Homo sapiens: one gene and its partners. The protein of the gene in region 4 interacts with the protein of the main gene of each other region in a pairwise test. Each region holds a gene or a part of one and is shown on either strand. Other genes may lie near its edges.

Evidence for each region.
Region 1: the proteins of ARFGEF2 (region 4) and PRPF40A interact in a two-hybrid assay, tested with the Homo sapiens proteins (one large-scale study listed by BioGRID and IntAct).
Region 2: the proteins of ARFGEF2 (region 4) and CLU interact in a two-hybrid assay, tested with the Homo sapiens proteins (one large-scale study listed by IntAct).
Region 3: the proteins of ARFGEF2 (region 4) and EXOC7 interact in binary tests that used the Homo sapiens proteins (3 or more experiments, as listed by UniProt).

The regions. Positions count from the first base shown.
Region 1 is NC_000002.12:152,705,019-152,712,206, forward strand, and holds part of PRPF40A (pre-mRNA-processing factor 40 homolog A), read right to left. Parts: intron 1-7,188.
Region 2 is NC_000008.11:27,595,246-27,602,433, forward strand, and holds the end of CLU (clusterin isoform 1 preproprotein), read right to left. Parts: intron 4,765-7,188; coding exon 4,535-4,764; intron 3,391-4,534; coding exon 3,215-3,390; intron 3,006-3,214; coding exon 2,996-3,005; 3' UTR 1,672-2,995; downstream 1-1,671.
Region 3 is NC_000017.11:76,084,647-76,091,834, forward strand, and holds part of EXOC7 (exocyst complex component 7), read right to left. Parts: intron 6,590-7,188; coding exon 6,497-6,589; intron 5,836-6,496; coding exon of another isoform or gene 5,683-5,835; intron 5,526-5,682; coding exon of another isoform or gene 5,398-5,525; exon of another isoform or gene 5,096-5,397; coding exon of another isoform or gene 5,029-5,095; intron 4,675-5,028; coding exon 4,529-4,674; intron 4,278-4,528; coding exon 4,125-4,277; intron 3,917-4,124; coding exon 3,818-3,916; intron 3,477-3,817; coding exon 3,414-3,476; intron 3,075-3,413; coding exon 3,008-3,074; intron 2,247-3,007; coding exon of another isoform or gene 2,208-2,246; intron 1,500-2,207; coding exon 1,434-1,499; intron 1,152-1,433; coding exon 1,031-1,151; intron 764-1,030; coding exon 668-763; intron 1-667. UniProt on the Homo sapiens protein: Component of the exocyst complex involved in the docking of exocytic vesicles with fusion sites on the plasma membrane.
Region 4 is NC_000020.11:49,027,299-49,034,486, reverse strand, and holds part of ARFGEF2 (brefeldin A-inhibited guanine nucleotide-exchange protein 2), read right to left. Parts: intron 5,958-7,188; coding exon 5,819-5,957; intron 2,439-5,818; coding exon 2,321-2,438; intron 1,465-2,320; coding exon 1,288-1,464; 3' UTR 1-1,287. UniProt on the Homo sapiens protein: Promotes guanine-nucleotide exchange on ARF1 and ARF3 and to a lower extent on ARF5 and ARF6. Promotes the activation of ARF1/ARF5/ARF6 through replacement of GDP with GTP. Involved in the regulation of Golgi vesicular transport.

The DNA of each region.
Region 1 (7,188 bases), on a different chromosome or scaffold from region 4:
TTTGCAGTTCAAGGGGTTACGAGTCTCAAAGGAAAAGCTTCAGTATGTGGAGCCTGAAGTTAAATATTTAGGCCACTTGATAAGTGCAGACTAGGGCCCGAACAAGTTGAGAGAATTGTGTCCCTACCCTTGCCTCAAACTAAACAAGAACTCAGGAAATTTTTAGGGTTAGCTGGATGTTGCCACTTATGGATTAACTCATATGCACAGTAAACTTTCATATCAAAAACTTCCCCAGGGGAAGCCTGACCATCTCCTGTGGACTTCTGAGGAAGTCGATCAGGTCAAAGAGCTGAACGAAAGGCTCATAACTGCCCCTGTCTTAGCCTTACCTTCCCTAGAAAAGCGTACCACCTTTTTGTGAACATGGATAATGCGGTAGCTTTGGGAGTGCTTACTCAAGAACACAGTGGCTGTCGGCAGCCCGTGGCCTTCCTGTCAAAAGTCTTAGATCTAGTTACTTGTGGATGGCCTCAATACATCCAATCCATTACAGCTACAGCAGTATTGGTCAAAGAAACCAAAAACTTAACCTTTGGAGAAAAATTGACAGTAAGCACGCCCCACTAAGTTAGAACTATCTTAAATCAGAAAGCAGGGAGGTGGCCTGCTGACTCAAGAATCTTAAAAGTATATGAGGCTATTCCGTTAAAAAAAAAAAAGCTGATTTAACATTAACCACTGATAATTTGCTTAACCCAGCAGGTTTCCTAACAGGGGATCCAAATCTAAAGAAAAAACACACAGGTTTAGATTTAATCGATTACCACACAAATGTCTGACCAGACCTAGGAGAAACTCCCTTCAGGACAGGAGGACACTTATTATAAATGGTTCCTCCCAGGTGATTGAGGGAAAAAGACACAATGGGTATTCAGTAATTGACAGAAAAACTCTCAAAGAAAGAGAGCCAAAAAAATTGCCCAGTGATTGGTCTGCCCAAACTTGCGAGCTGTTCGCACTCAGCCAAACCTTAAAGTACTTGCAGAACCAGAAAAGACCCATCTGTACAGATTCTAAGTACACCTTTTGAGTGGCTCATACATTTTGAAAAATTTAGACTGAACGAGGCCTCATTAATAGTAAAGGTCAAGACCTTGCTCATAAGGAGCTAACCACTCAAGTATTGAATAACCTTCAGTTGCCAGAAGAAATACCTATTGTCCACATCCCCAGACACCAGAAAAGCCTTTCTTTCGAAAGTCGAGGAAATAACCTAACAGATCAGATAGCCAAACAGGCTGCCGTTTCCTCTAAAACACCTATTTTTCACTTAACTCCTTACCTTCCTCCTCTTACCGTGATCCCCCTTTTTCTTCTAATGAAAAAAAAAAACCCTAATAACAATAGGTGCTAAAGAGAATTCAGAAGGAAAACGGATGTCGCCAAACCAGAGAGAAATGTTATCCAAACCCCTTATGAGGGAAATCTTATCCTAACTGCATCAAGAGATCCATTGGGGGCCCCAAGCCATGTGTGACGGAGTCCTCAGTTTATGGGAGCACAGAAATTTATACCCTGGCCAAACAGGTTACAGACAGTTGCTTAGTTTGTAAGAAAACTAATAAACTATAAAAAGATTACCCCTTATGGGAAGGAGTCCAGGCTTCAGTCCATTCCAAAGTATCCAGATTGATTACACAGAGATGCCTCCAACAGGGCGTCTAAAATACATACTAGTGACAGATCACCTCAGTCACTGGGTCGAAGCTATCCCTTTTCAAATGCAACAGCCAATAATGTAGTTAAAGCCTTTACTAAAAATATAGTGCCTAGGTTTGGGTTAATAGAAAATGCTGACTCAGACAGTGGAACCCATTTTACCACACACATCATTAAAAAGCTATCCCAAACACTAGACATTAGATGGGAATATCATACTCCTTGACACCCACCTTCATCACGGAGGGTAAAAAGAATGAATCAAACTCTGAAGAACCACTTAACCAAGTTGGTTCTGGAGAATTGATTACCATGGACCAAATGTCTTCCTATTGCCCTGTTAAGAATCCAAACTGCCCCTTGGAAAGATATTCATCTTTCCCCTTACGAGATGCTCTATGGAATGCCTTATTTACACTCCATTGCGGACATTCCTACCTTTGAAACAAAAGACCAATTCCTTAAAAATTATATACTTGGTATATCTTCTACTTTCTCTCCTCTTAAAACCAAAGGTCTCCTAGCACAGGCACTGTCCCTGGAGTTCCCAGTACATCAACATCAGCCTGGGGATCACGTCCTCATCAAAAACTAGGACGAAAAGCTCAAACTGGCCTGGAAAGGACCATACCTAGTGCACCTAACTACTGAAACCACAGTCCAGACAGCAAAAAAAGGATGGACCCATCACACCCGAGTCAAAAAAGTGCCGCCCCCTCCAGAGTCATGGGCCATAGTCCCAGGGGAAAACCCTACCAAACTAAAGCTAAGGAAAATTTAACTCTCTTTCATCTATTCTATTACTCCTTCTTCTTTCCTCTCTATTGCTGATCACCTCATTATTAATGTAACCGAGTCAATTTCGCCTCAAACTATTATATTTGATGCTTGCCTTGTTATACCCTGTGGAGACTTGACACGTCGAAGCAGCTCTCCACTCCAAAAAAGTACCTCTGTCCTTCCTGGCTCTGCTCAGACTGGATATTAGTGAATCGGGATCATTTAGTCTGGAAAGGTTTCAATAAAGACCCCAATGTCAACTGGGAGTATTGCCCCCCACACCCCGCCAAGACAGAGCTTTTATGCTGCAGTTGGTCCAATGTTCTGTAGACCAATAAAGAGCACAGATGGACTGCCCCAACCAGTAGTTGTAAACGTTCTGTAGACCACTAAAGAGCACGGATAAACTGCCCCAACCAGTAGCTGTAATTTCCTAAAGCCATACATTCACTTTACTAAAGAAACAGCTTCCCCTAGCTGTGAGCTAAACCAGTACTGTCCAATACAGGTTATTATCTCAAACCCTCCAAGTTCTTCCCCTTCTATAAGCCGGTTCCCTTCTTTAAGCCAGTTTTATGGCATGGGGGCTGAGGTTTCAGGAACAGAACCTATTGGATCCTTTGAAATATGCTGCATTGATCCCCTACTGCCTACACTTTCCCCTAAGCCTTCTTCCAAAACCTCTCACAACAAAACTATTGCTCCTCCTCCATCTAATGAAAAGACCAAGGTAGCTATTGTAGAAGTTAAAGACCTAAAACAAACTTTGGCAACTGAGACAGGATATCAAGATGTGAATGCTCTTAAATTTAAAACTCGAGATCAAATAGCTGCAGGATTTGAGTCAATATTTTTGTGAGTGACAACTAATAAAAACGTAGATTGGATAAATTACATTTATTATAATCAGCAGTGGTTTATAATTACACCACGGATGCTGTCAAAGGGTAACAGAACAATTGGGGCCCACTAGCCAGATGGCCTGAGAAAACAGAATGGCCCTAGATATATTAGCCAAAATAGGGGATGTTTGTGTTATGATTAAAATTCACTGTTGTACCTTTATCCCAAACAACACTGACCCCACTGGGAACATAATAAGCGTCTTACAAAGACTTACCGCTTTATCCAATGAACTAACTAAAAATTCTGGAGTCGATAACCCTTTCTCAACATGGCTAGAGAGGTAGTTCAGTAAATGAAAAGGAATCATAGCCTCAATCCTTCTCTTACAGCCATTATAGGTGTGCTCATTCTTACAGGATGCTGTATCATACCCTGTACTCATAGTTTAGTGCAAAGACTTATAAAAACAGCTCTCACCAAAACCTTCCTCAGCTCTCCTCCACCTTATTCAGATAAACTCTTCCTTCTCCTAGACATGCATTGTGTCATAATGGATAGCCTTTCCCTTCCAGCCTAGACAGCTGGGTTCAATTTCAAACATTAGTCAACTGGGTCACTTTAGATTGTGCGGTCCAACCCTAGCCAGTAGGGGAAAGACACAACAGTGGGGACCAGCTGTGTTAAGAATAAGAACCTCTTCCCCTCCCTTGTCCATCTCACGATTGCTCCATCTGCAAGACACACCCTTCTACAGAAGTAAACTGCCTTGCTGAGAAAACTTTTGCCTGAGTGCTATTTTCACTTTGCAACACTGAACATTCACTTCCAACAATCACATCTCTAATAACTGCTAAGTACAACTAACTTGCTTAAAATAAGTGATACATAATGTACAAGTACTTGACCAGACAGCGAAAGAAGGCAAATACAGGTTGAGAGGCCTTTATACAGAATGCTTGACACCAGACTGGGATTTTTTCAGATTTGCAGATATTTGCCTTTTTACCTACTGGTTGAGCATCCCTAATTCAAAAATCTGAAACATTCCAATGAGCATTTATTTCGAGTGTCATGTTGGCACTCAAAGTTTTAGATTTTGGAGCATTTCTGGTTTCCAGATTACAGATACTCAACCTGTATAAAATATTCATAGCCACTAGATTTCCAAATGTACGGAAATACCATAACAACCAAATCAGCAGTTAGAAGACAAAAATGAGTTCAAAATGGCATCTCAGGAATGACCTCCTTGAGAGCAGGGCATACATCACCTGTACACTAGGTACCACACCCAAGATACTTAAATGTGTACTGAATAAAAGAAAAATAAAGGTAAGGAAAAAAATAAGAATGAGACTGATAATTTCTACTTGGAATGTCATCTATTAATTCCTACTTATAAACCTTCACAACATGGACCTATTTCTCTAGGTTAAAAACAGGTTGGGCAAGGCGGCTCATGCCTGTGATCCCAGCACTTTAGGAGGCCAAGGCAGGAGAATCACTTGCGCCTTGGAGTTCGAGACCAGCCTGGCCAACATGGCGATACCCTGACTCTACTAAAAATACAAAAATTACCTAGGCATGTGGCACGCACCTGTGATTCCAGCTACTTGGAGAACCTGGGAGGATGAGGTTGCAGTAAGTGGAGATTGCACCATTGCACTCCAGCCTGGGTGACAGACACTCTGTCTCAAAACAAACAAACAAACAAACCCCAAAATCCCTAGTACACTGCTATGGTGTAGCATATGTACCAAATCTTTTTTTTTTTTTTTGAGACAGTTTTGCTATTGTTGCCTAGGCTGGAGTGCAATAGCGCGATCTCAGCTCACTGAGACCTCCACCTCCCAGGTTCAAGCAATTCTCCTGCCTCAGCCTCCCAAGTAGCTGAGATGACAGGTGTGCGCCACCATGTCCCGCTAATTTTTGTATTTTTAGTAGAGATGGGGTTTCACCATGTTGGTTAGGCTGGTCTCAAACTTCTGACCTGAAGTGATCCATCCACCTCGGGCTCCCAAAGTGCTGAGATTACAGGCATGAGCCACCGTGCCTAGCCTCAAATCTTTACTATCTATTAATACTACTATTAGTCTTATCATGATATTCAACAAGCCTAATTTAAAAATCAAAGGTTAATCTATTGACTTGTTTCCTCTTTTGATCCACTATCTAATGAATACATTCATTGCACTACACAAGCTGTTTCGTTTATGCATATGTGTGTTAACACTAACTTATTTTGATGTTGCCTTTTTCTCCTAAAGAGCAAACTAAAAGAATAAAGGGCCCTAATTCAGCATTTCTCACAAAATGCTAATTTCATACAATGTGCTACACAAAGCAAAACAAATGCTTTATGTGGGAGATTTATGGGGGAGATGGTCAAATAAGACAGAAATACTAAGTAAAAATTGTAAAAGGCTTCTGCAAGACTTCTCATCACTTTAGTAAATATTATGCCTTGTGAATTTCAAAAGGGGAGCAGGGGATGCCGGTCATTCTTCTCAACTGATGTGGTCCTCCTTAGATCTTTCCACACTAAGTTTGTGAATAGATGAGCTCATATTTAAATGAACTGCTATCTAAAGATAATGAAAATAAACGTATTTGTAGTCTCACTATTAACATTTGTCAAAAATCTAACCACATTGAGTCAAGAATTTACAGACATTAGGTCTGAGTTAAGATATTTTTTAAAAGTACTTGCTTGAGTCATCCACATGTACCCAGAAGTTACCCAGATTCAAGAATTATGAGCAGATGACCTAAAAAACAAAAATTCTATCTCTTTTTTGTCACTGGCTAATGCCCAATTCAATGGCATGGATCCTGTAGCTACTCAAAAGGAAGGGTAATTCAGAAGGAACAGCAACAAATAAATTTGTCAAATCAGTCAGGTAAGTCTAAGGTACCAATACACTAAATTTCTCTGCAAGGCCTATATCCTACTTTGTTATTTTTTCCTCTACATTACCTCTACATTACTTATAATACCTTACACAATGTAAATGCTATAAAAGTTATTATACTTTATTTTTAAAAATTTGTATTTTTTTGTTGTTGCTTTTTTAAAGACTATTTTCCATCGCAGTTGCTTGAATCTCTGGATACAGAGGGTCGACTGCAAATGGAAATATTTTAGTTTTATTCTCCAAACAAAAATTATTTATTTCATCTTATTTATCTTCCATTTTTGTCAAATGAAAAAGTAAGAGTAAAGAGGCAGACACTAAAAACAAGAATAAGTAGTAACAACGTAAAGTCACAAGTAACCACTGGAAACAGTCACATTTAACACTGACTGACTTATGGGCTTATACTGCAGGAAAGAATACCTGTGTATTTGTTTCATTCATTCAACAAGTATTTTACTGAGCACCCATGATGTGCCAAGAACTGTGCTCAGCACCTATAGGCTTCTTAAAAAGTACAGAACATAGCCCCTGCCCTCTAAGAGCTTACAATCTATTACTTGTTGGAAAATTAAAGCAAATTAAGAAACCATAAAACAAGTCAATAACTAGGTGCCAAAATAAGTGAAACGGTAAGAGTTATGGGTAGATTACAAATATTTTCTTTAATAATCTGAAGGGGAGGTATATGTTGGCAAAAGTCATTTTTGAGAAACTTTTGGAGAAGGCAGGACTTGAAATAGTACAACATAGGTAAGCAAAGCAAACTTCATGGTGATACTGAGCTGGGGGCAGGAGGGTAAGAAGAACAGCCTAAGTTTGAAGTTGTGAACTAATATAATCACTCAAGACACCGTGAAAAGACCAGCCTAAGTTCAAATTAGGGAGTGTAAAGACATGCAGCCTTGAATCCTGCTTTGACATGTACTATGGGGAGGTTCTTTAAAGTTAAGCTGTGGAATTTAGATACTATGTTATAGGCACT
Region 2 (7,188 bases), on a different chromosome or scaffold from region 4:
AGTAATCATTGGTTCTATAATAAACCGTGGAGACCCAAGTCCTCTTTGCATTGTCTCTAGAACTACTGGATACTTCCTGGGTTTGCCACTATCCTATTTTCTAGTGGGGCCCTGTGATCCCCAGAGACAGACCCGTGTTCATTCTTAGCTTCAGCACTTACCAGTGGCACAACTGCAAAAAAGTGGTCCCTGTTATTCCCACAGCCCAGCCTCTCTCGGGGTGACCTCGCCCTGGGATGCGTCATGTCTCAGCCTCACGCTTCATTGTGGATAACAGCTCCTGGAACCGGTTTATTGTGGAGGCTCAGCTCATTTGAAGACACAAACGTGAACCTTTTATTCATTCTAACCAGTGTTCCATCACCTGGTAACATCTCAAGCAGACTCTATTACTTCCAGATAAATCCACAGTTAAAAGAACAAGTGGTTTGCTTGAGAATGTCAGGCATTTTCACATCAAAGCACTTTGCCTCCCACTCTGCTGCCACCTATTCTATACCAGAGCTCTGCTCTGCACACCTGGGTGGCTTCCTGGCTCCCACCCCTTTCCTACTCTGGGCCACTTCACAGTGAGGGATGGGCAACCCTGAAGTCCCTTCAGCAGGCTCCGTGGGCCACAAAGGCTTGGGGTGGCTGCTCCCCCATTCTGGCCTTCCTAGCCCCAAGACACTTATCTGATGCAGGCTATTCTGGGAAGTCTTTGTAATGTGGGGAAAGTAACTCCTGCCTTGGAAATAATTATTGAAACCTAGTGAGATTACATGAAGTAATTGGCCCAAGGCCACTGTTTACAGTTGTACAAGCCATGCACTGCACAACTCCAGCACCGTTTCACCTTGTACCCATGAGAGATTGTATCTTATTACAATTTTCTGGCAGATGACAGTTGAGTGTCAACAGAGGGGCTCAGCAGGGTTGGTGCTGCCTCCCTTTCCAGACAGATGTCAAATCCCTCTCTTCTCAGCACATCAAGCCCTGCTCCCCCTTTGCCACAAGAGTCCTAGAAGCCAGACACTAAGGGCTCAGGGTCCGCAGTCCCCCAGGCAGAATTAGCCTCATCTCATCCCCACACCTTGGTGACATCATGTGCTGACTCAGTCTTCCCAGTGCCTCATGTTGGAACCTCTGTCAGGGATGGAGAGACATCTAAGGACCCCCAACCCCAGGCCACTGTGCAGAGGGGTAAGGAGGTGCAGAGAAGGGGTCTCAGGAAGCTTTAGAGCCAGCTTTAGGATCTGTCTTTCAGGGTGCTAGTATTTAAGAGTGTAAAAAAAAAATCCAAAACACTGGATATAAAGGCCTGGCACGGTGGCTCACGCCTATAATCCCAGCACTTTGGGAGGCTGAGGCAGGCGGATCGCTTGAGGCCAGGAGTTCGAGACCAGCCTGGCCAACATGGTGAAACCCTGTCTCTACTAAAAATACAAAAATTAGCCAGGTGTGGTGGTACGTGCCTGTAGTCCCAGCTACTCAGGAGGCTGAGGCAGGAGAACTGCTTGAACCTTGGAGGTGGAGGTTGTAGTGACCCGAGATTGCACCACTGCACTCCAGCCTGGGCAACAGAGTGAGACTCTGTCTCGGGGGGCGGGGGGGGGGGGAAGCAGCAACCAAAAAACCCACTGAATATAGTGAGTTCCAGAGTCTAGCAACATAACAGTGGAAAAGAAAAAGTAACTTTTGAAACAGTGTGACATTAATGTGACAATGTGACATATACTTTACAATTATGATCACTTAAGCAAATACCTCTGACCCCATAATTCTAATTAATGTATATCATTAAGTGAATCACACTGACTTTACTCTGAATTTCCTTGACAGCCATGCTAAAATACTTACCTTGGACATAAGCTAAGCTTTAAGTTTGTTGTTTATAACTTCAAAGAGAGACAAGGGACAGTGACTTAAGAATATTCTAAGCTATAAATTTACATGTGGACTTTGCTACACACCTGGGATGCAGCCAGATGAGTTTTGTTCCATTGCAGTACATCTGATGACCAGAATTCTATCAGAGAATGTTAATGAACGAAAAGCCTGAGCTTTAAGACTGAGATTGGTACCACGGGTAGTCATGGCCACCTGCTGGCAGCGTAGGGTACTGCAGCCCAGCTATGGTTCAGACTAAAAGCCGAGAAACGCCTGTGGTCCAGGGAAAGGTATGAAGATCATATAAACCGGCGGTGGACAGGAAATGCCACAGTCAAGAAGATGCCCCTGGGATGCTGAGCTCTTACAACTCGAAATCAACAGCTTTTACAAATAAAACCGCTGCAAAAGCAATAGCTCTTACAAATAAAACTGATAATTTGGACTTCTGGGCACCAAATGTTTTCATAACGAAAACATCAATTATGCATTATAATACCAAGTACACCTTACACTTACTGATTCTTCTCCTTAACTTTCAGTGTATTCCTTTAGGAGATTGTCGCACCTTGGTCAGAATACATCGACAGTTTTATAATAGAACAGAAAAGCTTCCATTTGCAGCAATATATTTTAGTTGGCTTGTTGAAACACATCTCTCTTCCTGAAAGCAAGCAATTCTTGAAGTGGATCAACCTTGTCATCATATCCCTTTTATTCTTCACCCTTTTATTCTTCACTGGTATGACAGTCCCTATACCATCTTAGCCACTGCTTTTTTGTTTCTACTTATTTTCCATCCCCCCTGCCTGCCCCCCATAGCAAAATGAAGGCATGCCGGGAAGCAGCAACTCAACATAAAAAGAGGACCCTCCAAGCGATCAGCTCACAAGACAGTTTTATTGAATTAGTTGCATGCAGGAGCAATTCTGTTCTTCCCATGAGCAGCAGAGTCGAGTGTTAGAGTGCAGGATCCAGAGCGGGGAGAGGCTGGGCGGAGTTGGGGGCCTGGAGGCTGGGGCCTGGTTACTTGGTGACGTGCAGAGCTCTCTCTGGGGGGCTGCAGCTCATCTTGGGGGGAGCTGGACTCAGATGCCCCCGTAGGTGCAAAAGCAACATCCACATCTCACTCCTCCCTGAAATAAAAAACAGTTATCCTCCAAAGTAAAACATCCTCCAAAGGAAAAATAAAATTCCCCCGTAACTTCCTGGCTTTGTTCTTGGGCTCTGGCTCCGGGCGGAGTCGTTCCCACCAGGCTATAGAGTCTGCACTTTGTTTGTTTTTTTGTGGCTCCCAGAGACTCACTGGGCCCTGCAGGCCCGCAGGAAAGGCCCGCCTGCTTACCGGTGCTTTTTGCGGTATTCCTGCAGCGCTTTCTCCGCCACGGTCTCCATAAATTTAGGGTTCTTCCTGGAGACTTCTACAGGGACCGTCACAGTGATGGGATCAGAGTCAAAGAGCTTCACGACCACCTCAGTGACACCGGAAGGAACGTCCGAGTCAGAAGTGTGGGAAGCCACCTAAATGGAACAAGAGAAAAGGGAAGAGCTGAAACACTGTGGTCAAAATGCATGCGCTCTGCAACAGAAGTCAGGCTTCTGATAAGGAAGTCCTCCTGCTTCTCCAAGGAAACCTAGAGAGCTGACCCCATGCTTCTTATACATCTAGACGTAAGTACAGCTCAGTGGACAGAACGGACCTGGTTCACAGACACTCATGTGTTGGGGCAAATGTCATCTGCAAATGACCAGCCCAGGGAGCACCCCAAAGAATAAAAGTGGTTTCCAAACATTTGCTTTAGAAGCAGCCCTTGGTCAGAGTAGGGTAGAAAAGGAATCCAGAGGGCCTGGAGGGAAGAAAGAAAAGAAAAAGAAGAGTTCCCAGTACTAGAAATAAGTTTTATTTGATTTTTTAACTTTATTTTATTATTTTATATATATATATTTTTTAAGAGACAGAGTCTCACTCTGTCACCCAGGCTGGAGTGCAGTGGCGTGATCACAGCTCACTGCAGCCTCCACTTCAGGGCTCAGGCAATCCTCCCACCTCAGCCTCCTGAATAGCTGGGACTACAAGTGTGTGCCACCACACCTGACTGATTTTTGTATTTTTTGTAGAGAGGGAATCTTGCTGTGTTGCCCAGGCTGGTCTCAAATTCCTGGCCTCAAGCAATCCTCTTGCCTCTGCCTCCCAAAGTGCTGGGATTACAGGCATGAGCCACCATGTCTGGCCTAGAGAGAAGTTTTTATCACTGGCAGAGAGTGATGTACTAATTCATAAGCCATTTTACATGCCAGAGGGCAGCCTTGTAGCTTTGAGAAAAGAACAGAGGCTTCTGGTTTATTCACAGATTTGTGCACCAAAACAAAAACAACAACAACAAAATACAGGCTTGGCAGCCAGGCAGTCAGGTTCAAATACCCGTCCAAGTCATCTGTCAGCTATCACACCTTGGCCAAGCTGTGGAACCTCTCTTACTTTGCTCCTTTGTAAAGCAGGGTTATATTTTCCCTGAGTGGGTGATGAGGCTTCAAGGCAACAGGGGCGCCTAAAGTTTTCTATTTTCTGCCGTGTGATAAATGCTCAGTCAAAAGCACACATGCCCCTGCTCCCGATCACAGCTCGGGCTCCCGAGCCACAGCATGTGGCCGGGACACAGCTCACCGTGGTGACCCGCAGATAGTACTGGTCTTCGCCTTGCGTGAGGTTTGCCAGCCGGGACACCCAGTTAAACTGCTCGTTCAGCTGCTCCAGCAAGGAGGAGGTGTTGAGCATCTTCCACTGGTAGGACTTTAGCAGCTCGTTGTATTTCCTGGTCAACCTCTCAGCGACCTGGAGGGATTCGTCGAGCTCCCGCCGCAGCTTAGCCTGGGAGGGGTTGTTGGTGGAACAGTCTGCCCAGAGATGGAAGAAACGCAAGTGAGAAGTGTGAAGGGAAGGCTACAAAGGGATAGAACCATGAATGAATGGAAGTTAGCACATGCAGCGGGAACAAAAGCAGTGCTTCCCTAAGGGAAGGGCCACAAACTGGAATTGTCCACGACAAAATAAAGGTTTTGCCTCAGAATGTGAATCTAGACACTGCTTCCGTCATCCAGAAAGTCTTTTGGGTTTTTTGTTTTTGTTTTTGTTTTTTTGAGACAGAGTTTTGCTCTGTTGCCTAGGCTGGAATACAGTGGTGAGATCTCGGCTCACTGCAGCCTTGACTTCCCAGGCTCAGGCTGTCCTCCAACCTCAGCCTCCTGAGTAGCTGGGACTATAGGCACATGCTACCATGCCCAGCTAATTTTTGTATTTTTTGTAGACACGGGGTTTCTCTGTGTTGTCCAGGCTGGTCTCGAACTCCTGGGCTCAACCCATCTGCCCAAAAAGTGCTGGGATTACTGGTGTGAGCCACCACGCCCAGCCTGAGAAGCCTTGCTCTGGAAAAATACGCCAACTGACCTAAACAGTGTGCTTCGTAACATCATTGATTTATCTTTGGGTGCCAGACCCTTATCTCTTTGGTGACAAACTGTGTTGACCACACTTCCAAAAGCACTGATCTCAAGTTCTCCATGTTCTCAGACCTGGAGTGGCTCTCGTTGCCCTAGTCCCTCCCGGGAATCATTTCCAGAGAGGAGGAATATTACTCACAGCTGCCATTCGTGTGGCACTGCCTTCGTCCCAGACACCGCAGAAAGTTCTCTCTGGATATCCTTTTTCTCTAAGAATTGGATCTGTTCTGACTTAAGGATTAGGACTTAAGTCCTAATTTTACCAATAATGAAATAATTTTTACCAATAATGAAACTGAGGCCCACAGAAGTATCAATAAATAGCTTACCTAAAGCCATAGAATAAATGATCTCTGGGCCCGGGATTGAACCAGGGTCTTCAGCTCCTAAGCTTGGGCTTTTCCTACCCTGGATCTGTGGTTCTGGACAATCCTCCAAGCTTGTCTTTTTTTTGAGACAGAATTTCGCTCTTGTTTCCCAGGCTGGAGTGCAATGGCGCGAGCTCAGCTCACTGCAACCTCCACCTCCCGGGTTCAAGCAATTCTCCTGCCTCAGCCTCCAGAGTAGTTGGGATTACAGGTGCCTGCCACCACCCCCGGGTGATTTTTTTGTATTTTTAGGAGAGACAGGGTTTCACCATGTTGGCTAGGCTGGTCTCAAACTCCTGACCTCAGGGGTCCACCCACCTCGGCCTCTCAAGGTGCTGGGATTACAGGTGTGAGCCAATGCACCCGGTCCAAACTTGTCTTTTGAGCATGTCTGTAGAGGTGGCAGTTCTGGTGCCAGGAGTTCATGCAGCTGATGCACTGGCACCTGGTGGCCAGGGGTCCTTGCCTGCCCACCTGCCCGCCCATGGCTGGTCAGTGAGTTCATCAAGAGAGCAGGGAAAAGAGAATTCATTCCTCTTGGCCCTGGGCTGCAGGTTGTCAGATTCATTAAGACCTGGAAACTGTCCACTAGCTCTTAAAACTACTGTTTTTCTCCCCCTAAGGTATTTCAAAAATATCCAGAGGCAGGTACATCAAACGTGAGTCAGGGGAAGGGAGATTTTGCATATGCTTTAGGATGATGACTGCAATCATTTATAGTAAACAAAATGTTAGGTGGGGAAAGAAACAGAATTACTAACAAGATGCCAGTTTGAAAATAAATATGTAATAAATAAACTTCATTATTTTACCAAAAAAAAATTTAAAAATAAGAAAAACTAGCTCACACCTGTAATCCCAGCACTTTGGGAGGCTGAGGCAGGCTGATCACTTGAGGTCAAGAGTTTGAGACCAGCCTGGCCAATATGGTGAAACCCTGTCTCTACTAAAAATATAAAAATTAGCCAGGCGTGGCGGTGCACGCCTGTAATCCCAGCTACTCAGGAGGCTGGGGCAGGAGAATCGCTTGAACCCAGGAAGCAGAGGTTGCAGTGAGCAAAGATTGCGCCACTACGCTCCAGCCTGGGTGATAGAGCGAGACCCTGTCTTAAAAAAATAATAATAAAATAAGAAAAATCCTTGAGAGCTGAGGCTTAGTCTAGAATAGAGGTTCTCTACTGGGGTGACGCTGTCACCCAGGGAGATTTAGCAAGTTCTGAAGCTGGTTGTCACAACAAAGGGAAGGGAGCTGCTGACCTCTAGTGGGCAGAGGCCAGGAATGCTGCCAAACACCCTGAACTGCTCAGGACAGCCCCCAACGACAAAGAATGACCTGGTCCAAAATGTCAGCACTGCTCACACCTGTAATCCCAGCACTCTGGGAGGCTGAGGTAGGAGGATCACTTGAGCCCAGGAGTTAGAGACCAGCTTGGGCAATGTAGCAAGACCCCAT
Region 3 (7,188 bases), on a different chromosome or scaffold from region 4:
TTGCTAAATCTCTGGATCTACTTGGTGGGTGGTGGTAGGAAGGGATGTGGGTCACAACTAAGCAAACAACAGGTTTTCTTCCTGGGAAGAGAAAATCTTTAAACTGGTCACTTTTTGAGATAACATTAGGAAACACTTGAGTGTTCAATAAATTGGACAAATACTGTCAACTATACTTCACATCAATATCGTGGCAAACTAAGATGGAGAAACAGATGAGAAAGAAAGGAGTGGAGGGCAGATAAATGAGAAGGAAGAGGTAGACACATTCAAAGGGAAGAAACAAAGCCAGGAAGAAAGAGGACCAGAGAAGCAGCGGGATCCTCACAGAGCAAGGCTCAGCCACGTTCAAGTGCTCTCGCGACCTTGCTCTTCTCCTAGGTAAACATTACCCACGTCTCTGAGAGCCAGCTCTTCAATCATTCTTAGCCTTGACACTTGGCAGACTCCCCTCTAAAGTGGCCATAGTGGGCCCCTAGGAGCAGGTAGTGGTAGAGGAGGGGGCTTCTCTCTCCACCCCGTGAGTTTGATTAGAAACCAAGTGGAGGATTAGGGTCCAGAGGACAGGAGTTCCCCGTGACCGACTCTGTGTCCTGAGGTGCTGAGAAGGAAGAGTGCGTGGTGGCACAGGGGCCCATGCAGGAGCAGGGCGGGCCCAGCCTCTCACCTGCGCTGGTAGGTCTGGATCTGCTGCTCAATGTGCTCCCGGTAGGAGCGCTCAGCAGTCTTCTGTGTCACTGCCACCAGCTGGATCAGTTCAGACCTGGGTCGGGGTAGGGGACAGAGGAGAGGAGGACAGGATTGGCTCCTCAGGCCCAAAGGCTGCGGCAATGCCGGGAGGGCCTCCCATTGCACCCCAAACTCCACAAGCTCTATGGCATCCCACCTTCCGGGTCCTGGGGTGGAGGAGACTGAAGCACCCCCTCCCCTCTCGTCCACAAGAGAAGGAGCCCAGGGGGGCAGGGGCTGGCACAGCTGCACAGCCGAGGGGAAGGTGAGAGCCGCAGACTCACTCCCGCAGGCCACTTACTTCTCCAGGGACTTGAGGATGTAATTGTAGTTGTTGTGCAGGAAGATGGCGCTCAGAGCTGGGTCCTCGTACACCTTGGACTTGCTCAGCAAGTTCAACTGCAGGTTGCCCAGCACTTTACCTGCACAGGGAAAAATGGGGCCACACCCACCATGGCAGTCTGACCCAAACGACCCCACCCCAGGACCCGCGAACGCGCTCCTATCCATCGCTCCTCGTCCTGCCTCAGGAGGCCTTAGCCCAACTCCCCTCAGCCTCTGAACTAGAGGTCAGGTTGTGGTTCCAAAGATCAGATGGCACTTAGGAGAGGGCCCTGGGAATAGCCAGAGAGCACAGACAGAAGGAAGGGAAAGGCAGGGCATGCAGGCAGCAGGGCTGCTGGTCTGCCCGGGAGAACACTCACAGATATAGGTGCTTAGCAGCCGCTTGCTGAACTCAGAGCTGTAGCTGGTGGCCGAAGAGCTGGTCTCTGTGAGAGGAGAAGTCCTGTTATTGCAGTGGCAGCAGCCAAGACCCTCAACGGCCCTTCCCCCAGGCCATGCAGCAGTCTGAGGGGACACTGAGACAGGCCCTGGGCTTCCTTGGGCAGAGCTGGCTGCCTGCTAAGCCACAGGGTGGCCCCTGCCGCAGGAAGCACCAGCCCTGGAGTTTTTGGAACCCAGAGCTGCCCTCTATGATGGGATGGAGCTGGCCCATGTCAGCAGAAAAGCTGGCAGGAAAAGAGTGAGATGCCAGCGCCCTGTCCCCTCCTGCCCCCACCCACCCTGGGTGGTTTCTACAAGGCCCCCTTTTTCCTTTTGTCAACAGCAGAGTCTTAGAATGGGCTCCCCACAGCCTCTCCACCTTCTCCCCTACATTCGAACATCCCCTCTACCAGACCCTACTGAACAGACGAAGCTGCGGCCTGCACAGTGGGGAAGGCCGAGTGGGGACAGCAAGGCAGGGAGGCCGGGCGAGCCTAGGGGGTGTATCCAGGGCTCTAGCCTGGGCAGGTGCTGCGGATAAGCTCAGAGACAGAGTGGCCTTGAAGGGAGCAGAGAGAGTTGAGAGCACCCCGAGAAAACTCATGTCCCCTCTGACTCAGGCTCCCCAGTAGGTACTGAGAGTCAGTCCCCAGGGAACCTCACCCACCAAGCTTCAGAGGGACAGGAGGGGGCTGCAGAACCGCACTGCTTACCTCGGGGGTCTAAAGGAATATTGTATGTGTCCCCAAGAACTACGGAGTGAAAGGCAGTGCACACAGAGGGGACAGAGGGAGAGACAAAGGAGGGAGAAAGATGCAAAGTGCAAAAAACAGGTTAGAAACGGCATGTCAACCCGAATTAAGCAGACCTCTCCCCACGACAGCCAAAACACAGATAGCAAGACACAGCAGGCGGGACCCTCTGAGGACCAGGGAACACCCTGGAAAGTAGAGAGCTGAGAACTGCAGGCTGGAGGCTGCCCACAGGCTCCTTGCCCCCAAAATGGGACGGGAGGAGAGGGCCCAGGGACCTCAGTGCTTGGAATGACCCAGAAAGGTGCTCTTGCTTACAGGCCAACCCCCTGAGCTCCAGTCCCAGGGCAGGGCCAGCAGGAAGACGCCCAGCGGGCCCTGAGACACTTGCTACCCTCTGAAGGCCAGCTGAGCGAGCCTGATTAGGAGAGCAGGCAGACACGAGAGAAGGATTTGGGAGGGGGGCAGGGGCAGAAAGGACACCTTCCAACCAACCAGCACCGCTCCCAGAGTGAGGACACTGCTTCCAGGGCGAGGACGGTCAAAGGGGCTGAGGGAGGGGCCAGAGGTCCAGTGTCTGGTCTTGAAAGGTGCAGGCAAACCTTGCTCTCCTGATGCTCAGCCCCAGGGACCCTCTGCTGAGCACACCTCAACCCCTCCACAGACTGGAGATACCTCCTCACTGCTACCTGCCCTCTAACCCCATGTCTCCAGGCAAGGAGGCGAGTGGGGCAGGGGGCCCAACTGGGAGGTACCAGTACCTTGGGAGGCCAGCATGGCGCCTGCCGTCTCCTGGAAGTCCAAAAGCTGCTGCAGGAAGAGGATGGCCTGGGTGGGAAGAAAACGGTGCAGAAGGGCAAGTGGCAGGCCCGGCCGACGGCCTCCCACAGCGACCCCTCTGAGTGCCCAGGGCCAGCCCAGGGCTGGGATCCGCCCAGTGAAGAGCGCGGCTGGAAACTTCATTTTCACTCTAGCCTGCCAGGAAAGGCCCTGTCTGCTAGAGACACTAAACATGTCACTGTCCATCCTGCCACCCAGGACTGCTCACAAAGGTGCGAGCGGCTCTGGGCCAGGCTGAGTCCCTTCCACCAGTACTCTGCCTGGCCCTGGGCCTGGGCCTGGGCCCTCCTTCCTCCCCTCTCCCTGGTGTCCTCAGGCAGCACCCACATTGCTGGTGAGCTCGTGTACGGTGCCGTCCTTCGGCATGTTGTACTCCTTGTCCGGGTCATTCTGTGGAAAAACAGCCTCTGGTTCCCTGAAGCAGCCCCCAGCCCACCCCATGCCCCAGTGCACCTGCTCATGGTGCCGCCTCCTGGCAGACGGGTGCTAGGACACCTCTCAGGCACAAAGGCTGAGCCAGGCTGGACCAAGGGGGAGAGGCCCTTCCCACTTCAGAGGGCTTGGAGGCCCCAGGAAGGAAAGGAAGGCACATGGGTGCTGACAGGCCAGTGGCGCAGCTGGCTGCCCCGGGACAACGCACCCTCTTGGAGGCCTGCTCTGAGAGTCCCCCAGGGCCAGGTCACTGTGGTGCTGGGCCGGGAGGGAGGGAGAAAGGGGAGGACAGCAGGGACCTTGATGTTGTCTGCGAAGTCCTCCAGCGCTTTGGCACCGATGGTCTCCATGGATGTGATGAGGCCAGGCAGCTTGTTCTTTGTGCTGGCAGCCGTGCCCTGAGGAAGCACAGGGGAGCCCCCAGCTCACCTCCAGTCGCTCTGTGAGCATCTCACTCACCCAGGGCCCTTCCTAAGCTGCTTCCATGCACCTTCAGAGCAGAAGTGTGGGACAGAGAATGGGGTTCTCCCAGGGAGGGATGGGGCGGCCACACCCGGCAGCACGATGCCTCCTGGCTGTGTTTTTGAGGGCCCCTCGCCCACATACCTGGAGCACCTGGTCAAACTCAGGCTTGGTCTGCTTGAGGTGTCGCAGGATGGGGAAGACGGTGAGCACCGTGGAGAAGTCGTGTCGCACAATGGCCTTCCGGGCAGCAGACACGATGTTCTCCCCTTCAAGCATCAGCCCATCCAGGGCATCCTGAGGGGGCAGGGAGACAGTTCAGGGAAGGGTGGGGCGGTGGGAGCTAGTTCTGGGCTAGTGGGGGATCCTTGCAGTATGTAGGGGGGCCAGTGTGCAGGAAGAGGGGTGACGGGGAGGTGGTGAGCGTCCACCCAGGACCGGTCCCCAGGGCACGAGGTGGTGGTGGTGGGTGGAGTTGAGGGCTGCAAGAGTCTGTTGTGACAGCTCTTGCTGGGGCTGGCTGCAGAGCCCCCGGGGCGGGGCGGGACCTGTATCAGGGAGTCGAAGGTCTTCTTCTGGTGGTGCTCGGGGATGATGTCGGCCAGCAGCTGGTACTCGCTCTGCGCCAGCTTGACGAAGGCACTGACGCAGTGGATGTAGGCATCGGTCTCCACGTCCAGCATGTCATCTCTCCCTGGGGGATGGCACAACTCTTGAGCTGCTGGTCTGGGGCCAGCCACACTCCTGGCTGGGGGCGGCGTGGGTCCCCCAGCTCCTGGCCTGTACCCCACACTGGCAGAGGATGGGGAAGAGGCTGACTGTTCTGGCAGAAAGCTGCAAGGGAGCCAGCAGGCCCCGCCAGGTTCGAGGGGAATAAAAGGAGCTGAGCCCAGCCTTTGTTCTGGCTTCATTCTCGGCTCTGCGCAGACAGTGGGATCAGACACCAGAGGCAGGAGAGTGACGGATGGAAAGATAAGGAGGGAAGATTCCTGAATCAGCGTCCTGGATAAGGTGGTTTGACCCCAGGACTGAGCATTCTGAGTTGTACCTGAAAGAGGGCAGCCCAGGGTGGGCAGGTGGCTGTGCCACCTCAAGGAGGCTGGCACTGGGGTCATCCATGTGGGCAAATGCGGGGCCTGTGAAGGAAGTGACCAGCCCAGTCAGGGCTTCTGGAACATCTAAGAGGGTGGTTGGCTGCAGCTTCTGAGGCTGGCTGGCATGGGGTCAAAATCTAAGAGGCTGGTAAGTCCCAGAGAGGAGGGGTTGCCAGCTGCCCCAGGAGGAGGCCAGACCCTATTACTGGAGGCCACGGCGGGGGCGCCTGCAGGCAAAACCGGCGGCAGAACTGCCTGGTCCTATGTGCCAAGGGATGGGCTCCGAGGGGATCAGAGCTCTGAATTGTTGCAGGAGGCGGACGTCAGGGCTCCCTGCCCTCAAGGGAGCCACCTTCCCTCTCTGCCTGCTTTCCGAGGAGCAGCGGCTTCTCCCCTTGGCCCAGGCCTGACAGACAGGCACGCACTCCCATCTGGAGAGAGGCAAGGAGACCTAGGCCCAAAAGAGAGAGAGTGGAGAGAGAGGCGCATAGGCCTGGCCCATCCTCAGAGCAGAGTGGGCCCAGCTGGGCCAGGCAGGAGCAGGCCATCCGGGGACCGCTGCGAAGGCAGTGTCAGCGGCTGCCCTCGGGCTGGGCTGCGGTACTCACCGGCCAGCGGCCCGTGCTTGTCGTTCAAGGCCTCGGACAGGTGCTTAACTCGGAAATCATGCTCGTGACCTGGCGAGATGTCGGCCGCACAAACACAAGCAGCGTTTATCCAGGGGCCAGGCAGGCCGCCCCTTGGGGTACAGGGAAGAAGCCCTTCATCTCCAGGAGGGGGACGTCAGATGGGGATGGGGAAGGGGGCATCGGAGAGGGCCCTGAGCCCCTCCTCTACCTCAAGCCACCTTGGGAACAGCCGTTTCAAGCCTGACTTCAGTGAGCACCCAGGACCGTCCTTAGCTGCTCATTTCCCCGAGCCTGGAGGCCCAGGGAAAGCGGAGAAGGACCAAGGAGGGGCTGAAGAGCTGATGCTTGGCCCCAGGGGGGTTCCCCACCTCGCTGTATTTGGGGAAAGCCCCAGTTTGCCTGTCCTCTGCTGCACACACTCCCCTTTCTAAAGATGGGAAGGCCGGGAGGCCTCGGCCAGCTGGGGCCTGCCACTGCTGGTCTGAGCGTGAAAGGGCTGCCCCAAGACAAATAACTTTTTCTGAGTTCACACAGGAGACAAGGACAGAGACAGGGAAGGGAGGAGGGAAGCCTCAGGGAGGGCAGAGCTGCCATCAGCCAGAGAGGACCAGGCCGAGGGCTGCGAAACTGTCCCTGTGCCCGCTGAAGCCCGAGTGGCATCGGGGACCTGCCGTTCCCACCCTGCTCCCCTCAGGGTTTCTCCCGAGGCCCTCCTGGGGGAGGCTCTGCCCTGCCAAGTGCGTGGACACACAGTGGAGGAGGAAGGGACAGGAGGGGAACACAGGGTGATTACCTTCCAGAGGAATGAGGTTAGAGCCCCCCTTTTTCCCATCTAGACCATGCTGGGAATACTGTTTCAGAAGGTTCTGAGCCTTACGGATCGTCCCTGTCACCAGAGCCACACAGAGAGGAGATAAGAAGACCTAGGAAATGAGTGAGAGAAAACAGCAGCGGCCCTCCACCTGCCCCCCAGGCCCCGCACCCAGCTCCCCAACAGTGAGCAGGCCTTTCCCTGAGACCACCAGAGACGCTGGGGACAAGGATGAAGGAAAGGAGTCATTTCCTTCTCCAAATGGAGCCTTGATTCTACTACCGACCCTCCTTGTTCTGGATTTCAGCTCATTTCTGAAAGGACAGAGGGTAATGAAGATGGACCAAGATCCACCAGGAGAAGTCAAAAATATGGAGTGGCATCATAATCAGAACAGGCGAGGGCTCAGGTCGGAGGAGCCCGTGACAAAGCTCGCATACCCAGAGGGCACAACCAGGGTGGGAGAGCCTGGGGGGCACCCTGAAGCCAGCAGGCCCCCAGCCCAGCCCCAAACTCCAGGCAGAGTTCTCCGAGCATGCTCAGTGTTGGGACGTACGCCAAACAGCAGCCAGCAGGAAGCCACCCTGACTGAACTTCCGGGGGAGCGCTGTGCCCAAGGCGGACGGCTCAGAGACCCAGAGGCAGCCTAGCCCCACACCAGAGTTCCCCAAACC
Region 4 (7,188 bases):
CTGCTCACAGGCTTTGGGACGTACTTGTGTACTGCCCACTTTTACACAAGCTGCAGCAGAACTCAGTTCTACTGCAGGTGAGAGTATTGCACCATCATTAACATAATAAGGACCTCAGAATCCAACCTTGCCAAAGAATTCAACTCCTAGGCTCAGATTAATGGAAGTGCTGGGCACATGCCACCTCCTGCCATTGTCACAGTTCAGCTGTGCTGGCCCCGACACAGCTCCAGTTCCACCCATGACATCTGGCTGAGGAGGCTTATGGGAGCGGCTTCTCATGCACAGTTACTGTCCCTCTCTGGAGGGTCCTTTAATGGGGACTGTGCAAAGCAGTGACACTAACTGCCAGTACACTCACTTTTCTGAGGTGAAAATAAAAAGGTTTATTCAAGGATAAATGAACTCTGGTTAAATTACTACTTCATTTTCATTACTACTTCATATATTAGATTTCAGAGTGTGTGAGATGGACAGTGTATTCTGGAAATTTTAATTTAACACCCATCCACAAATACTTATTTCAAGGAAGGCTAATCATCTTCATTAAATTGTTCACTTTTTCGTGTAGACTTTTTCTCTCCATGTTACTAAAACAGGGAGATCCACGAGGCACATTTTTTTAACCTCGCAAAACTCTTAATTCTAACTTAATTACTAAACTCTGCCTTCAACCAAATTTTCAATATCTTTTTGTAAAATACTTTAAAAATCACTCAGACATTAACAAAACACAAAAACAACTCTTCTCTAATCCTGACCTGTCCTTAAACTAATCTAATTACGGCTGACTCGTAACTGACAAAAACATTCAAATTTCTCTAACACACTCAAACAACAGAAAACCCAGCATATTTTAGGTGGCAGTTAGCCGTTACAAGAAGTTTTATTAACATATTCTCTAATAATCACAAACCTATACAGCTATGTTCAGTATTTTCAAGGAGAGTGACTTCTTACAAAACGTTTATAGCCAATCATGGGATTTTGCTAGAAAACGATGGCATATGCAATGACAGATTTGACAGTTTAATCAGAAAAATGGAATGATAGAAATGAAGCAGACTCCCCACCTACTGTGCTAACTGGGTATGCAACAGTTTAATGAAATACCATAAGCCTTAGTTGGAGACTGTGATGGAACAGCGTAGAGGCCATCCGTTTCCAGGCCATTCTGAGATCCAAGATGCCAACTCCTTGTTTCTATGAAACTTCACGAGATGTGCCAGTCAGAAATGGCATGCTGAACATTCTGCAGAGCTGCAGCACTGGCCTGGGCAGCCAGGGCTACCACACTGGTGACAGTGCTGCTGGTACCTGTGATGGCTCTTCTGGTATCCATATCTTATACACAACACCTATCCGTAGGAAGAACTTCCGCAGAACTGCTCGGAGCTCAGGGATCAGGTCAAACTGCATAATTTCACACAAGTAGGGGTAGTACATTGAAGCATGTGCTTTGAACTTGAGGTGGGAGAGAAACAGATAAAATTAGACAATTTTTTTTTTTTTTGGGCACCAGTTTTTCAGAAGTGTTAATCTCACCCTGGAACTTATTACAATATTGGTGCTTTTCTTGCTATTAGAAAGTTGGGGCCGAGCGCAGTGATTCACGCCTATAATCCCAGCACTTGGGGAGGCCGAGGCAGGTGGATCGCTTGAGCTCAGGAGATCGAGACCAGCCTAGGCAACACGGTGAAACCCTGTCTCTACCAAAAATACAAAAACTTAGCTGGGCATAGTGGCGCGTGTCTGTGGTCCCAGCTACTCAGGAGGCTGAGGTGGGAGGATCGCTTGAGCCTGGGAGGCAGAAATTGCAGTGAGCTAGATTACGTCACTGCATTCCAGCCTGTGTGACAGACCAAGACTCTGTCTCAAAAAAAAAAAAAGAAGTTGAAGAAACCTTGCAAATTAAAGCTTCTTTCAGTTATATTTAACTTTAATTAAATTTGGATAGTCTTGCTGCCAAAAGTCAACAGCTCTTTTATTTTGTAAAGCAGGTTCCTAGGTCAAAACTGGTGCTTCACAATCTTAACCCTCTCTTCCTGCACTGAAACTCACCATACCATTCCTAACAGCAACACATGAGGTCTACACTTCAGCCGTTCTCAACTACTGTTCTTCCAGGCAAAAAGCCCTAATATCCTGTGGCACCCATTGTCCATAACGGATTAACTTCTCTCCAATGCATCTAGAATGGTGCTAGTCACGTAACCATCCTTGGGAGAACTGAGAAAATAGTTACTGCAAACTCTTGAGTAAAAAGCCAACCCAAACTTTATGTCCTAGTGAAAATTGGTCAGAGTTTACTTGTTCATACCTTTTCATCATTTATTTTGAGGGTTTTAGTTAGAAGTAACAACAAGAGACTTGTCCAGGCCTCCCGATGGCTCTCAGAATTCACAGTGATGAAATAGGCAAGAGCTTCACTGCAAACACTAGAAGAATTAGAGAGGGGGAGGCATATCAAACAATTGATTAACATCTCACATTCAGGGGAGAACTATTCATTCTTGTGCTATTTTTAAAATTATTTTAACATGTTTTTTTTAATTACTTTTTTTTTTTTGAGACAGGGTCTTGCTCTGCGGCCCAGGCTGGAGTGCAGTGGTGTGATCAAGGTTCACTGTAGCCTTGACCTCCTCGGGCTCAAGCTGATCCTCCCACCTCTGCCTCTGAAGCAGCTAACACTACATGCTTGCGCCACCATGCCTGGCTAATTTTTTTGATTTTTAGTAGAGATGGGGTTTCACCACGTTGCCCAGGCTGGTCTTGAACTCCTGGGCTCAGCAATCTGTCTGCCTTGGCTTCCCAAAGTGCTGGGATTATAGATGTGAGCCTGAGCCTCTGAGCCCAGCCACTGCAATAACTATTGAGCACCCACTCTGGCTGTGCTATCTTGGGCAAATCACTGAGCCTTAGTTTCTTCAGCTATAAAATGGAGATAAAAAATTGCCTGGCCAGGTGCAGTGACTCATGCCTATAATCCCAGCACTCTGGGAGGCCAACGCAAGCAGATCACTTGAAGCCAGGAGTTCGAGACAGCCCGGCCAATGTAGCAAACCCCCATTTCTACTAAAAATAGAAAAATTAGCTGGGTGTGGTGGTGCGTATCTGTAATTCCAGCTACTCAGGTGGCTGAGGCACAAGAATCACTTGAACTCAGGAGGTGGAGGTTGCAGTAAACTGAGATTGCACCACTGCACTCCAGCCTGGGCGATAGAGTGAGACTATCTCAAAAAAAAAAAAAAAAAAAAAAAAAAAAAGTCCAAACTCAAGGGGTTGTTGTGAGGATTAAATGAAGTAAATATGTTAAGTCATAACTTGGCTCAGTCCTGGCACATGGCTAGGGCTGAACTCAATCAATGTCTGTAGCACAAGAGCTTATTACTCATAATTATATAACTGCCTTTCTCTCCTCACAATCACATTTAATTGCTTTTTTAAAAAACATGCCAAAAACTTGACATTTACATATCTCTTTTTTTTATTTTGAGACGGAGTCTTGCTCTTGTTGCCCAGGCTGGAGTGCAACAGCACAATCTTGGCTCACTGCAACCTCTGCCTCCTGGGTTCAAGTGATTCTCCTGCCTCAGCCTCCCGAGTAGCTGGGATTACAGGCGCCTGCCACCATGCCTGGTTAATTTTTGTATTTTTAGTAGAGACAGGGCCATGTTGGCCAGGCTGGTCTCAAACTCCTGACCTTGTGATCCACCTGGCTCGGCCTCCCAAAGTGCTGGGATTACAGATGTGACCCACCGCGCCCGGCCCTACATATCTCCTTTAGAGAAACTTTATGAGACTGTAGGTATTTGTCTTTTGGGCTTAAGCTGAAATGAGCCATTGGTGCCTCCTTTAATTAATTAATTCTTTTTTCACTTTATGACTTGTTATTCTCATTGTAAGGTAACTGATATATGTAAAAAATTATGAAAAAAATTATAAAGAAAAATAGCTACATCATTCTAAGGGATACATGACAATATTTTGGCATATTTCCTTCCAGTTTTTTTTTTTTTTGCTAAGATTTCAAAAGAAAAATTGCTCGCCTGTAGTCCCAGCTACTCAGGAGGCTGAGGCAGGAAGAGCTCGTAAGCCCAGGAGTTCGAGACCAGCCTAGGCAACATAGCAAGACCCTGACTCTAAAAAAACAAATAAAATGCCCCAATTGCTGAAAATTCCAAGTAAAAACACTTTTGCAGCTTTTTTTGGGGTAAAAATTATTGTATTATGAAAAAGTTCCCACATTAAGTAAAATTATTTCTTAAAAATTTCACTTTTAGGCCGGGCGCAGTGGCTCACGCCCATCCCTGCACTTTGGGAGGCCGAGGTGGGGGGATCACGAGGTCAGGAGTTCAAGACCATCCTGGCCAATATCGTGAAACTTTGTCTCTACTAAAAACACAAAAATTAGCCAGGTGTGTGATGGCACACGCCTGTAGTCCCAGCTACTCGGGAGGCTGATGCAGAAGAATCACTTGAACCCGGGAGGCAGAGGTGGCAGTGAGCCAAGATCACGCCACTGCACTCCAGCCTGAGTGACAGAGCAAGACTCTGTCTCAAAAAAAAAAAAAAAAAAAAAAATTCACTTTTAGGCTGGGCACGGTGGCTCATGCCTGTAATCCCAGCACTTTGGGAGGCGGAGGTCGGCAGATCACCTGAGGTCAGGAGTTTGAGACTAGCCTGACCAACATGGTGAAACCCCATCTCCACTAAAAATACAAAAAACCAGCCAGGTATGGTGGCACGCGCCTGTAATCCTGGCTACTCAGGAGGCCGAGGCAGGAGAATTGGTTGAACCCAGGAAGTGGACCTTGCAGTGAGCTGAGATTGCACCACTGCACTCCAGCCTGGGCGACAGAGCAAGACTCCGTCTCAAAAAAAAAAAAAATTCACTTTTAATGACTATGTTTCATAATATCATAATTTAGGACATATTACAGCTTAGTTATTCATTCCACAGTTGAGCTGCTTAAAATTTTTTCTCCTGATAAGTCTGCAGTGAATATTCCATGTGGTATTCCTGGTTCCTATTTCTAAAATATTTTCTGAAGCAGATTCCATAACAGTGGAATTACTGAGTCACAGAGAATGAACACTTTAGGGCTCCTGGTATATAGTCTCACCTACTTTCCAGAAAGATCATGCCATTATACACTCCAACTAGCTACGCAGGAGAGTGCATTCTTACCACACATTTGCCAGCACTGTGTGTTACTGTTTTTATACCTTAGAGGAAGAAAAGAAAGCTCAGGCATCAGAATCTTGCTGATGCCCAGGAAGCTGAGTGACAAAGACCTACTTTTCTGGCTGGGGCTTCCTCATCAGTATTCCACTCTCTCCCCATTGGTGGATTTCTAGATAATTTTGTAGGCACATCCTGGTTATATGATTTCAATTACACTCTTCTTGGAAAGAAGGAATGATGGGATGTTATTGCTGACAACAATTCTAAAGAGGACCTGGTCCCAAGAGGGATAGTAACCTGCCTAAGGCCACAGGGCTCTAGCCACAGTCAGGACTTCCATCCAGCCTGCTGACCGCTCGGAGCACTTTTCACTGTCCATGTTTCTATGCATAGCTCACAGCACCCTTCCACTCCTGGGCTCAAGCAAGGGCTTAACAGTGAAACAGATGAGGCTCTGCCCTCTTCAGGGCATTAAGAAAAGTGAAATGGGAGAGTCACCAAATAGAAAGAAAAAAAAATTTGTCAGAGTGTCAGCATGTATTTTTCTCTTACTCTTTTCAATCCACAGTATTGCTGTGATGCATTTTGTATATAGCAGATAGAAATCTAATCAGAAACTAATTTTCTTACGTTAAAAGTCTCTGCTGTATTTCTTCCCAGGAATCCCTGCGGTTCTCATCAACATACATTCGAAACAGGATCCTCAAACAACAGGCCAGGCTGCTGGTTTCTTGTTTTAGAAGATTGGGTTTAGACTTGCCCTTAAAACCTAGAGATCAGACAGTCATATAATTAGTGCACATTTCTAAGATAATGCTGATAACTGTGTATGACTAGAAATCTAGTTATTTTATGAAATATGAAACATCTGTTTTTTTCTTGAGATAGTCTTGCTCTGTCACCTAAGCTGGAGTGCAGTGGCATGATCATAGCTCACTGCAGCCTCCAATTTCTGGGCTCAATGATCCTCCTGCCTCAGCCTCCTGAGTAGCCAGGAACATAGATGTGTGCCACCATGCCTGGCTAATTTTTTTTTGTTTTTGAGACAGTTTCACTCTTGTTGCCCAGGCTGGAGTGCAATGGCATTATCTCGGCTCACTGCAACCTCCGCCTCCCAGGTTCAAGCGATTCTCCTGCCTCAGCCTCCCTAGTAGCTGGGATTACAGGTGCCCACCACCATGCCGGGCTAATTTTTGTATTTTTAGTAGAGACAGGGTTTCTCCATGTTGGTCAGGCTGGTCTCGAACTCCTGACCTCAAGTGATCTGCCTGCCTCGGCCTCCCAAAGTTCTGGGATTACGGGAGCCACCGCACCCAGCTAATTTTTTAGTGTTTGTACAGAGAGGGTTTTACTATGTGGCCCTGGCCGGTTTCAAATTCCTGGGCTCAAGCAATCCTCCTGTCTTAGCTTTCCAAAGGAATGGGATTACAGACATGAGCCACTGAGCCTGGCCTGAAACATTTTATATATATTCTTAATACAGATCGTTTGTGATACCAGATGAAGGCAGTTACGACTCCCCAGAAGTCATCCTCTGTATTACAAGATAACTTCATTTTTCAATGCCCTGTACTGTTCTTCATTTATTTATTGGTATTTTATTTTGAGACAGTCTTGCTCTGTCACCCAGGCTGGAGTGCAGTGACACAATCTTGACTAACTGCAACCTCGACCTCCCAGGCTCAAGTTACCCTCCTGCCTCAGCCTCCTGCGTAGCTGGGACTACAAGCGCACGCCACCACGCCTCACTAATTTTTGTATTTTTTGTAGAGATGGGGTTTTACCATGTTGCCAGGCTGGTCTTGAACCCCTGACTTTAAGTGATCCACCCGCCTCAGCCTCCCAAAGTGCTGGGATTATAGGTGTGAACCACCTTGCCTGGCCTGCTCTCCATTTAGACTTTGCTTATTGGCTGGCGAAACCATTAGTTTTGTCTTTTCAAATGTAACAGCTCTTAAGAATTCTAGGCTGGGCGCAGCGGCTCACGCCTGTAATCCCAG